Homo sapiens: one gene and its partners. The protein of the gene in region 3 purifies or fractionates together with the protein of the main gene of each other region. This does not show direct contact. Each region holds a gene or a part of one and is shown on either strand. Other genes may lie near its edges. The genes, in order: EDEM2, DERL1 and SHH.

Region 1 (3,647 bases), on a different chromosome or scaffold from region 3:
TGCCACAACTGGAACTTGATGTTAAGACATGAGCTCTACCTTAAGATGAATATTAGCCAACAGGAGTGGGTCCAGATGAGAATATTTATTCTAGAGATAAGGAAATCCAAAAAAAATGTGTTTATTGCTTTCAAATACCTGAAGAACTGTTGTAGAGTTGACTTCAAGGGTGGCCTCAGCTCAGTATGTTTTTCTACTTCATCCATCTTTTCTAAGAGACAGAAGAACCCCTGTCTCCTTTCTATACCATCATCTCCCCCTGACCTTCTCCTGTCCTGTTTCCTCCTGGGCTTGATCAGTGCTTCTGTCCCTTTTGGCTTATTGCTGCAAACTCTGGTTCTTATTTTATTCCGTTAATTACTTTTTTGTGACAGAGTCTCACTCTGTCACCCAGGCTGGAGTGCCATGGTGCGATCTCCGCTCACTGCAACTCTGCCTCCTGGGTTCAAGGGATTCTCATGCCTCAACCTCCCAAGTAGCTGGAATTACAGGCATGCGCCACCAGCCCTGACTAATTTTTGTATTTTTAGTGGAGACAGGGTTTCGCCATGTTGGCCAGGCTGGTCTCAAACTCCTGACCTCAAGTCATCCGCCAGTCTTGGCTTCCTGAAGTGTTGAGATAACAGGCGTGAGTCACTGCACCCAGCCTCTAGTTCTTATTTTAGAGAAAAGGTCTCTGCCTATCTCCCCAGTTCTCTCTTACTTCCTCCTCCCCTCTCCTCACAGGCCTCTAGACAATTGCTAATCTAATTGCTCATATTCTAAGGCACAGACTAGGGTACATTCATTACTAGATGAACACATTCTGTGTGTTCAAAGGCAGAAAAGACAGTGCCCTCATGGGAGGCCTCCTCTTCTGCTTCTTTTTTCGGCTTCTTCTTTTTTTTTTTTTTTTTTTTTTGAGAGGGAGTTTTGCTGTGTTACCCAGGCTAGAGTGCAATGGCATGATCTTGGCTCACTGCAACCTCTGCCTCCCAGGTTCAAGCAATTCTCCTGTCTCAGCCTCCTGAGTAGCTGGGACTACAGGCACATGCCACCGTGCCCGGCTAATTTTTGTATTTTTAGTAGAGACAGGGTTTCGCCATATTGGTCAGGCTGGTCTCGAACTCCTGACCTCAGTTGATCCACCGCCTTGGCCTCCCAAAGTGCTGGGATTACAGGCGTGAGCCACCACACCCAGCCCTCTTCTGCTTCTAGCAGCTGGTGGGCCAGTGCCCTCATGACCAGCCATCACGCTTCTCTCCTCACATGTGGGCCTCCTAAGCATGTTAGTTATTGCTTTACTTTCCTGTGCATCTGACCAACTCTGTCGAGCAGTGGTCCCCAACCGTTTTGGCACCAGGGACCAGTTTCATGGAAGACAATTTTTCCATGAACTGGGCTTGTAGGAGATGGTTTTGGGATAATTCATGTGCATTACATTTATTGTGCACTTTATTTATATTATTATTACATTGTAATATATAATGAAATAATTATACAATCCACCATAATGTAGAGTCAGTGGGAGCCCTGAGTTTGTTTTCCTGCAACTAGACAGCCCTATCTGGGGTTGATGGATGACAGTGACAGATCATCAGGCATCAGCTTCTCCTAAGGAGCACACAACCTAGATCCCTCACATATGCAGTTCACAATAGGGTTTGTGCTCCTATGAACGTCTAATGCCACCACGGATAAGACAAGAGGCGGAGCTCAGGCAGCAATGTGAGCGATGAGGAGCAGCTATAAATATAGATGAAGCTTTGCTTGCTCACACGCAGCTCACCTCCTGCTGTGTGGCCTGGTTTCTAACAGGCCATGGACTTGTACCGGTCCACGGCCTGGGGGTTGGGGAATCCCTGCTCTAGAGGAAGGAGACAGCCCAAAGTTCAGATTTGGACTTAGAGGAAGGTAAAAGCCTGCAGAGGCCTTTAGGCTAGGCTCTGTGCTCCAACACTGCTGATCAGAGAGACATATACGAAAGTACAGGGCTCTGGCCAATTTAGTGAAAGAGTAGTCCTTATCTCCTATTTGCCATTGTTTTGGGGTAGGAGGGATGACTGGATTAACGCACTCCTGGATTCCTGACAGCGGTGCCTTATGTTTTTTTTTTTTGGAGACAGGGTCTCACTCCATTGCCCAGGCTGGATTGCAGTGGCGCCATCATGGCTCACTGCAGCTACGACCACCTGGGCTCAAGTGATCCTCCCAGGTAGCTGGGATGGGACTACAGGCATGCAACACCACTCTTGGCTAATTTATTTATATTTCTTATAGAGACAAGGTCTTGCTATGTTGCCCAGGCTGATCTTGAACCCCTGGGCTTAAATGATCCTCCTGCCTCAGGCTTCCAGAGTGCTGGGATTACAGGCATAAGCCACTGCATCTGGCCAGTAGTGTCTTACTTTCCATGAATGCCTTCCTGCCAGCCTGTCCCAAATGGAACAGGTTGCCTCTGTTAAGTAGCAAGCTCCTTGTCACTCGTGGTAACTAAGCAAAAACTAGATAACCACTTGACAGGGCCATATTAGGAAAATTCCAATTAGAACACCTCTCAGGTTCCCTCTAACCCTAAGATTGTGCAAGCCTATGTCTTACATTTAGTTCCAAACCCTAATCTTTACCTGTTGGTAACACCAGATACGATACCTTCTCAGAGCTTCTTATTTTTAAAATTTACTTATTTATTTTTTTGAGATGGAGTTTTGCTCTTTTTTGCCCAGGCTGGAGTGCAATGGCGTGATCTCAGCTCACTGCAACTTCTACCTCCCGGGTTCAAGCGATTCTACTGTCTCAGCCTCCCCAGTAGCTGAGATTACAGGTGCACGCCACCATGCCCAGCTAATTTTGTATTTTTAGTAGAGATGGGGTTTCACCATGTTGGCCAGGCTGGTCTCAAACTCCTGACTTCAGGTGATCCACCTGCCTTGGCCTCCCAAAGTGCTGGGATTACAGGCGTGAGCCACCATGCCCAACCAAGTTTCCTGTTTTAAAAACATGCCATGAGAACAAATGCATGAGAAACATCAATAACAGTGGCCTCTAAGGAGTCAAAAGTTGATGAATTTGCTCTTTATTCCCTCTCCTGGTCCCCTCTACACCTCCTACGATAATCACTTGAGTTAGAAGAGGAAGGAAATGGGGTAGAGGAAGGCAGGATAACCAGAAGGCCTGTCCCATGGCTAAAAGGCAATTCAGGTGGGAAAGTGGGAAGTGTCTAAGACAATGGGCTCATAGCCTGTTTTGGGGTGGGGGATGACTATGTGTGCTGACTAAGCTTCCTTCCTTTGTCCCTCTTTTTCTTTCCCTCCTCACAATTTTCAGCTTCCCTGAAGTGAATCAAATGACATTAGGGCTAGAAAGGAACCTATGAGAGTGTCTCAAATATAGTCCTTTGCTTGATTCTGAGCTGCAAATGGGGAGGTGGAAGAGACTAGGTAATTCCTAAGGTCCGCCCCAAAGTTCTAACATTCCATACACGTAAGCATAATTTATCTGACCCATGGACTTAGGAAGCTTGCCTACACTTCTGAAATCCTGATGGCAGGAGCTCAAAAGGAGTCAACCTTGGCCTTTTCCTTCTCACTCATTTCCTGATTTGAAAGAGCATATGGGGCCAGTCGCAGTGGCTCACATCTGTAATCCCAGCACTTTGGGAGGCCAAG
Region 2 (3,647 bases), on a different chromosome or scaffold from region 3:
TTAAATAACTGATCATAAATGATCCACACTTAATCTATTTTACTATTGATATAACGTTTACTATCAATATAAAATAATTACTCCAGCTGGGCACAGTGGCTCACGCCTGTAATCCCAGCACTTTGGGAGGTCAAGGTGGGCAAATCTCTTGAGCCCAGGAGTTCAAGACCAGGCTGGGCAACATGGTGAAACCCCATCTCTACAAAAAATACAAAAGTCAGCCAGGTGTGGCGGTTTAACACCCATCCTTGTAGCTACTAGGGAGGCTAAGGTGGGAAGATCACTTGAACCCCGGCAGTCAAGGCTGCAGGGAGCCATGACTGTGCCACTATACTCCAGTCTGGGTGACAGAGCAAGACCCTGTCTCAAAAAAAAAAAAAATTACTCTAACAAATTAATGCTCAATTAAGTTATACCAGAAAGGCAGACTGCTAAGCACTCAGTATCATTATGGGTCCAACTGGAACAAAGGAGAATAAAAATCACATATTCTGGTAGATTTAAAGATCAAACCCCTAATATGGTGGTGAGAGGCCTAGTTGTCAGTTTCATTTCTGCCAAGTTACTTTACTTCCTTGAATCTCCTATTCATCTTTTGGTAAAACTCAGGAAATAAACTAGGTTCCTCCCAATAGTAATATAATAGTCTATGACCTTACACTTTGTATTAATACAATTTCTTTCTTTTTAAAAAGAACCTAAAAGCAAATGCCAATTTAAGGAAAAATGTTACTTGACATCAAATACCCATCCTACTATTTCCCTGCAGTGATGAGACTGATTCGCAATTCTCAACCATATGAGCACTGACTTACATACACTTAAGGGTAGTTCAGAGTTCTCTATCCTGAGGTAACAGCCAGCAAGTTTATAAAGTCTCTGAAGTCAGTCAGCCTTTTCAAAGTCATTTAAATTTAACAAAATTATATCCATATTGTAACACAGTGTATTGATGTATTGTTTCTTTAGTATAAGTGACTCAGACAGCATATAAGGTATTGTAGGAAATAAATGACAATTCAGTAAGACACTTTTACGAAAAGATTTTTCGAACTTATCCATAATATTACATAGGTTGGCTGGGCACGTTGACTCACACCTGTAATCCCAGCACTTTGGGAGGCTGAGGCAGACAGATCACTTGAGGTCAGGAGTTTGAGACCAGCCTGGCCAACAGGGTAAAACCCCATCTCTACTAAAAATATAAAAATTAGCCGGGTATGGTGGCAGGTGTCTGTAATCTCAGCTACTCAGGAGGCTGAGGCATGAGAATTGCTTGAACCCGAGAGGCAGAGGCTACAGTGAACTGAGATGGCACCACTGCACTCCAGCCTGGGCAACGGAGCAAGATTGTCTCAAAAAATAAATAAATAAATAAAATAAAATATTACATTGGTACTCATACCTGATAAACTACCATATATTATTAAATCTTGGCTATATACTGTATTTTAGAGTTGAGTTTTTCAATTAGAGAATAAATCTAGGCTTTTAATTACATAAATTGATGTTTTTCAACCCCAATCTAGGAGACATATATACTCCAGCCCAATTCTGCACTGAAGGACAAGGACTGCTGCAAAAGAAATGAGTGAGACCCTCAAAATAAATGAAAGGCACACAGCTCAGCCACTAAGGAGATGGACAAGCCATGTCAACCTCTGATCTGCTACTTTTTGCATCTATAAAATGGTAACACTGCTACTTATACCTCAGGATGTTGTGAGGATTAAAAATTGAGTAAGCTAAGTGCCTGGTGCAGTCCTGGCACAGTCACTAAGCATTTACTATCTTTATGCAGTTTCTTTTTGTAATGCTAACTGCCCTCCAAATTCCTCCAAAGTAAACACATGGATTAGTAAATGAGAAAGAAACAATGCTTAAAACAACTATGGGTAACATACCTGTTTCAAGTCGCGTAGAATACTGATATAAGAAATATAAATTGACCAAATAAAGAAATCCAGTTCCTGGACCCACAGGGAAATAAAAGGTGGCAGTGATTGGCCTCCAAATCTGTCCAGATCAAAATAAACACAGCTGTTAGTTTCTGTAAGCCTGGTTATTTCTTTCCCTTCTAACTAAACAAAATTAACAAAGCATCCTCCTCAATGAGAGGTGTGAAAGTGATCCTACCAACACAACTCAAGAAAACAACTGAAGAAAAGTGTTCACACCAAATACAATCACATCACTTTGCAAATCAATGGAATAAAACGACATCATAAAATAAGCAACAAATATTTCTAAACAAGTTGAAACAAAATCAATACTATATGAGTATATGGTTAGTCTTTGCTGAGATCAGGCATACAATTAAGCCTACATCAAAAAATGAATTACAAAGGCTTAATTTCCAACAGTACAGTAATGCCTCTATTTAGGGAAAGAATATTCTGGAATGACAAACCTTGTCCAAAAATGCCACATTCAAAGGCAGAAGTAAAACAACAATTTTTTATTCAAACCAATGCACTAAATAGGCAATAGGGGCACTTTTTCTTTAAAAACATTTCCCTGAAAAAACAAACAAAACATAAGAAGGGTCTAAAGTAACAAGCAGGCCAGGTTCGGTGGCTCATGCCTGTAATCCCAGCACTTTAGGAAGCTGAGGCAGGCAGATCACCTGAGGTCAAAAGTTCAAGACCAGCCAGGCCAACATGGTGAAACCCTGTCTCCAATAAAATTACAAAAATTAGCCAGGTGAGGTGGCGGGGGCCTGTAATCTCAGCTACTCGGGAGGCTGAGGCAGGAGAATCGCTTGAACCCAGGAGGCGGAGGTTGCAGTAAGCCAAGATCGCGCCACTACACTCCAGCCTGGGTGACGAGCGAAACTCCGTCTCAAAAAATTAAATTTAATTTAATTAAAATAAATTAAATAATAAAGTAACAAGTAAGCCTCATTCCCAACCTCCAGTCTCCCAGTTCCCCAACAACAGCTGATCAGTGTCTTGTATTTCCTCTAAGAAATACATGTTACTATTACTCATTCTTCTTTATCCTACTCTATACGGCACTGTTTTATACCTTGGTTCATTCCCTACAAAATATTTTAATTGGCTTCATAGTATTCCTTGTATGTGAATGTCTAAACTTTTGTTTAAACTGTTACAATGCCACAATGAATATTCTTGTATATCCTCTTTATATGTGCATATACAGAATAAGTTCCTGTCAATAAATCTGCTAGAGCAACAGACATAACCATTTATTTTGGTAGATACTGCCAAATGCCTACAAAAATGTTTGCTCAATTTATACTTCCTCCTAAAAAGTAGATGAATCCTGTCTTCTCTCCATACTCTCACCATTTCATGTATTATATATTCACCAATCTGAAAACTAATTTTTATTTGCATTATGAGAAGTCAAGCACCTTTTCACGTTTTAAAAACCTGAGCATTTCCTTTATTCATTTGTTTTTCTGGATTTACATTTTTTTTTTCCCCCCCGAGATAGGATCTTGCTCTGATGCCCAGGCTGGAGTGCAGTGGCATGATCCTAGCTCACTACAACCTCCACCTCCTGGACTCAGGTGATTCTCCCACCTCAGCCTCCCAAGTAGCTGGGACTACCAGCATGCACCACCACACCTGGCTAATTTTTATATTTTTTGTAGATACAGGGTCTCCTGATGTTGCCCAGGC
Region 3 (4,419 bases):
TCCCGGCCTGGCTCTCCTCACCCAACCCCCACTTGGGCCGTCCTTCCCCCTCCTTTTGTGTTGGGAACGGGAATAGCCACTGCCCAAGGAAAAAAGTATTTGTTTTCGTTTCGTTCGTCTGAGGGAAGTTGACAGAAGGTCAGAAGTTCAAATGCTGCCTGTGCGCGCGGCGGCGAGAGTGGCCGGGCGCGGGGCCGCTGGGCCCTGCGTCCCCCGGCAGGGCGGACGGGGGTCGGGGGGAGGCCCCCGGGCTGGGGGCTCCGGCTGGGACGCGGAGGCCTAGAGGCCAGGCAGGCGGCGGACTGGGGATGGGGGCGCGTCCCAGGGCAGGCCGGCGGAGCCCGCGATGCGCCCCGGCCCCTGCGCGGGCGCCCCCATCTCCGCGCCCCCGCCGCCGGGGACACTACAGCGAGCCCGGCGCTGCTGTTAGCTCCTGCGGTGCCTGCGCTCCCGCGCGTGGAGCAGCAGAGCCCGGCGGCTCCAGCCCAGCCCCTCGCGCACTGAAACCCTAGCCGCGGGGGATCGATAACCCGGGAGTAAGTGGGGCTGCAGGCGTCTGCCTCGCTGCGCGGCTCTGTGCGCTTGCAGCTTTGCAGCAGGGCTGCAAGGCCCAAGCCCTGGGAAGGTGTGCGAGCCCAGGACCCCTTCTGCGGTATTGGCCTCCCGCAGAGCAGGGCAGAAGCTGACCCACTCTGGCTCTGGGACCTCGGGTATCCACGCCCCCGCCGCTCTCTCCGCAGTGCCTCCCTCCTCTCGGGTTCCGAGGGACCCTGGCAAGGCCCCTCCTCCGCGGGGAGTGAGGGTGACGAGAGGATGGGCGCCTCGGGCTAGCCGGAGAACTCCCTCCAGCCAGCTGCACGCAACGGGCACCCCATGGCCCGTGCAGAGTTAATTGTGGATCGCGCTGCTGTCTGGCACTGGCGCGCGCGTCCACACTCGCGGTCCAGATTTAAGGTGGTCGGGAGCAGATGAGGGAGAGCAAGGAAATCAGGACCATTTCCCATTCCTCTCCCTTCCGACAGCTGGAGCAGGCTACCTTGCCTGCCCCTCGCCTTTCTCGGCCTCAAGCAAGCCTGGGAATCGGGTCGGGAAGCAGGGCGGCACGGAGGTAGCTCCTCTCTCTCTGCCGTCAGTACCCTCCCCCTGCACTTGCGCCCCACCAGCGCCACTCCATCAGCCGCTGTACGCACCTAGCCCTAAAGGTAGGACTTGAATATTTTAATAGGGCAATAAAAAGGATGTTGACCTATATTTGCAAGGAAACCCATTTCTGGCTTCAGTTATACGTGCATGGAGTTTCAGAAAGTCTAGAATTGGCTGGGAGATTGGCAGCTCAGAAATCTCAAAGGAGGTGGGGAGAGAGAGAGGAATTCATATTTTGCTTAGCTTCCCCTCCCCCCACACTAATATTTATTCGCTCTTAATTCTTATGCAAGCAGGTTGAAAACTAAAGTGATGCAATGCCAATAAGTTCTAAGTCCCTCCCCTAAGGTACCTCGGGCTTGGAAGAACGAAAGAGCATCCTTAAAGAAATATCAATACATTCACACTCTGATGGGCACAATTGCGGACACGCAATCGCAAAGCCAGCTCTGCGATACAGCCAGCCACCCAGGGACGGGCGGAGTCTCCCCTGGAGCCCCTGCCTTTTGTCAGAACCGCCTCCTGGCTTTTCCAGTTGAGAATTCTTTGGTGGGGAGGTGCAGGGTGGGGGTAGTGGTGGGAAAGAAAACCACAGAGGCAACGGGAAACGTGGGGGCTCTGAGCTCCAATGCCCAAGGCTACGTTCGTTCGTTCGTACAGTACCAGGAGACCACTTCATGTTTGTGGGAGGGGGATTCCCAGCCTCTCCTTCCATTTCCACTCCTGACTTGGAAAGGGCCGACGCCCCCAAAGTGAAGGTCTCCCCAAGTTACAAGCCAGGGCAGAGGTAGGATGGGGAAGGCCATTGTAGCAAGACTCATCAAATCAGGGCCATAATGAACCACGTCTGTTACCGTCCTCACCCCCACCACACCCTAAACTTCTCCAGCTGGACCCTTGACCTCCATTCTCCTCCAGGAAGAGGAAGAGATGGGGGGCGGGCAGGTGGGTGGGGAAGGAGCGGGTGAAATCACCTTCCTATCTGCCCGAAGAGCAAACAGAGTTAAGTCTGGAAGTGTTCGGCTTCTCGTAACCCCCTGGAAAGCCACACATTCCACGCCCCGGCGCTGGGTTCCTACCTGAGTCATCAGCCTGTCCGCTCCGGTGTTTTCTTCATCCTTAAATATGATGTCGGGGTTGTAATTGGGGGTGAGTTCCTTAAATCGCTCGGAGTTTCTGGAGATCTTCCCTTCATACCTTCCGCTGGCGCCTAGGGTCTTCTCGGCCACATTGGGGATAAACTGCTTGTAGGCTAAAGGGGTCAGCTTTTTGGGGTGCCTCCTCTTCCCGAACCCCCTGCCCGGTCCGCACGCCAGTCCCGAGCATACCAGCAGCGAGGAGACGAGGACTAGCAGCAGACATCTCGCCAGCAGCAGCATCTCGCCCATGGAACTGATGACTTCCGAGCTGTCCCCGTGCGGGTCCGTGCGCGAGTGCGCGCGGCGGGTGTGTGCGTGTGCGCTCTCTCTTGCGCTTTCCCTTCCTCGCTCCGGCTCGCCCGCTCGCTCTCTCCCTCGCTGGCTGCCTCGCTCTTTCTCTTCCTATATAACCTTGCCCGCCGCGGCTGCGGGGGACTCTCCACCGCTCCCCACCCAGACAGGGGCTGGAATGGCAGGCTGCCGGCCGCTGATAACGGAACACATCGGAGTTGGGTCGCGAGACAGCAATCAAAAGACAAAAAGAGTCTGATTTTAAATGGTAGCAAGCCTGGAGAGCTTGTGAGAGAGGCTGCCTTTAGCACTATATTATAGCTGCCAGGGGCGCATCTGATTGGCCAAAGCCGCACAAGCTTGTCTTCTGATGTTAACCCTGAAGAAGACTACGTTTTTTTTTTCTGTTGCTGCTGTTGCTTTATTTTCACCTGAAGGATTCGAGTTAAAAAAAAAAAAATCTTTCCTAAGATAAAGGTGGGCGGGAGGGAGGAGCGCATGTCTTGTGGTAACAGCAGTTACTCCCGGCTTTGTGTACATCCTTGCGTTTCCCCCTGACTTTCCCTGGAATGGTAGGTGCTTCAGTTAAAACCAACTTAAGTTTTTAAAGGACAGTTTAAACCCCCGCAAGCTTCAGTCATCAAGCACAGAGTCGCTCACACATTTGAGGGGCACAGCTGCCCAGCTGTTATTTAATTTTTCTTCCCCAGGGACTTTATAGTGCAGGCTGGCTCTCCCTGCATTTTGAAGAAAGAGGACTGAGCCCCTCCTGAAGACTCAGCCTCTGTGGACCGAGGATAATTATGAGTGACCATAACTTAAAGCACTGGTATTTGAAATGCTTTAAGTGCCTTAGAAAAATGTAAAAATACTGCTCTTTTATTGTGCTTCAATTAATACATTTTTTTTTTTGTAGAGCTCTGCAAATGGGATGGAGGCGTGCTCAAGGGCAGTTACAGAGTGAACTGCGGGCGTCAGGGTGGATGGGCAAAGCAGGTCTGGGGGCTGCACCCCAGCACAGGGGAGAGAGTGGGGGCCAGTGTGTGCGCTGGGTGTGTGGAGGCCATTGCAGGGTGTTGGGGGGGGGGCAGGCGAGTGGGCGAAGCTGTGCTCACACAACCCCCACGATCGATCAGAGCAAAGTGCAGAGCCAGGGGTGAGCTGAATGTGGAATTCAGGCTCCTTGCAAAGCTGGCCTTGTGTGGGGGCTCAGCAGGCCAGCAGTCTTCAGGCACAGGAGCCACCAGTCCTAGGGGCTGCAGCCCAAGGGGTCAGGGGCCCTGGGGGAACAGTGTTCTGGTTAACGAGGGGCTTCCTAGAAAGAGGGCACAGTGCCCAGGAGGTGGCAATCTTTGAGTCTATAATCACCTCACTTTTTGCAGAAAAAGGAAAAAAACTCAAAAGTCCTAAGTAAACCAGGAAAATAAAATTTGAAGCTCCCTCTCAACCCTGCTTTTCTTTTTTTTTTTAAAAAAAAAAAAACAGATCATGCCCTTCCCCTTCTCAATCGCCATCCCACTCATGTGCAATGATTCCTCTAGCATAGGATTAGAGAGTGAGGGTTATTTACGTGGAGGGGAAATCCTGACCCTGAGGAGTCATCAGATGCTGCAAATGTGGCCCTGTGAAGTTAAACACTCTCCCTTGACCCCGGGCCCTTGGAGTGGAGGGGGAGAGGACCCCTGTGAAGCTCAGCCCTCAAACGATGGAAGTTTCCAGAAGTTCCCTTTGCAGATCAACTTTTTGTGTGTGTGGTGGGGGAGAGAAGGAGAGGAGCATCTTAGGACACATCTGTCTTGGGCATGAGAGGCTGAGCGTTAACAAGACTCGGTGGCCTGGGTGCCTT

Evidence for each region.
Region 1: the proteins of SHH (region 3) and EDEM2 purify together in Homo sapiens (affinity purification with western blotting, with the first as the bait; one study listed by BioGRID). This does not show direct contact.
Region 2: the proteins of SHH (region 3) and DERL1 purify together in Homo sapiens (affinity purification with western blotting, with the first as the bait; one study listed by BioGRID). This does not show direct contact.

What each region holds. Positions count from the first base shown.
Region 1 is NC_000020.11:35,119,715-35,123,361, forward strand, and holds part of EDEM2 (ER degradation-enhancing alpha-mannosidase-like protein 2 isoform 1 precursor), read right to left. Parts: intron 1-3,647. UniProt on the Homo sapiens protein: Involved in the endoplasmic reticulum-associated degradation (ERAD) pathway that targets misfolded glycoproteins for degradation in an N-glycan-dependent manner.
Region 2 is NC_000008.11:123,028,701-123,032,347, forward strand, and holds part of DERL1 (derlin-1), read right to left. Parts: intron 2,057-3,647; exon of another isoform or gene 2,017-2,056; coding exon 1,905-2,016; exon of another isoform or gene 1,530-1,904; intron 1-1,529. UniProt on the Homo sapiens protein: Functional component of endoplasmic reticulum-associated degradation (ERAD) for misfolded lumenal proteins. Forms homotetramers which encircle a large channel traversing the endoplasmic reticulum (ER) membrane.
Region 3 is NC_000007.14:155,809,601-155,814,019, forward strand, and holds the start of SHH (sonic hedgehog protein isoform 1 preproprotein), read right to left. Parts: upstream 2,864-4,419; 5' UTR 2,523-2,863; coding exon 2,223-2,522; intron 1-2,222.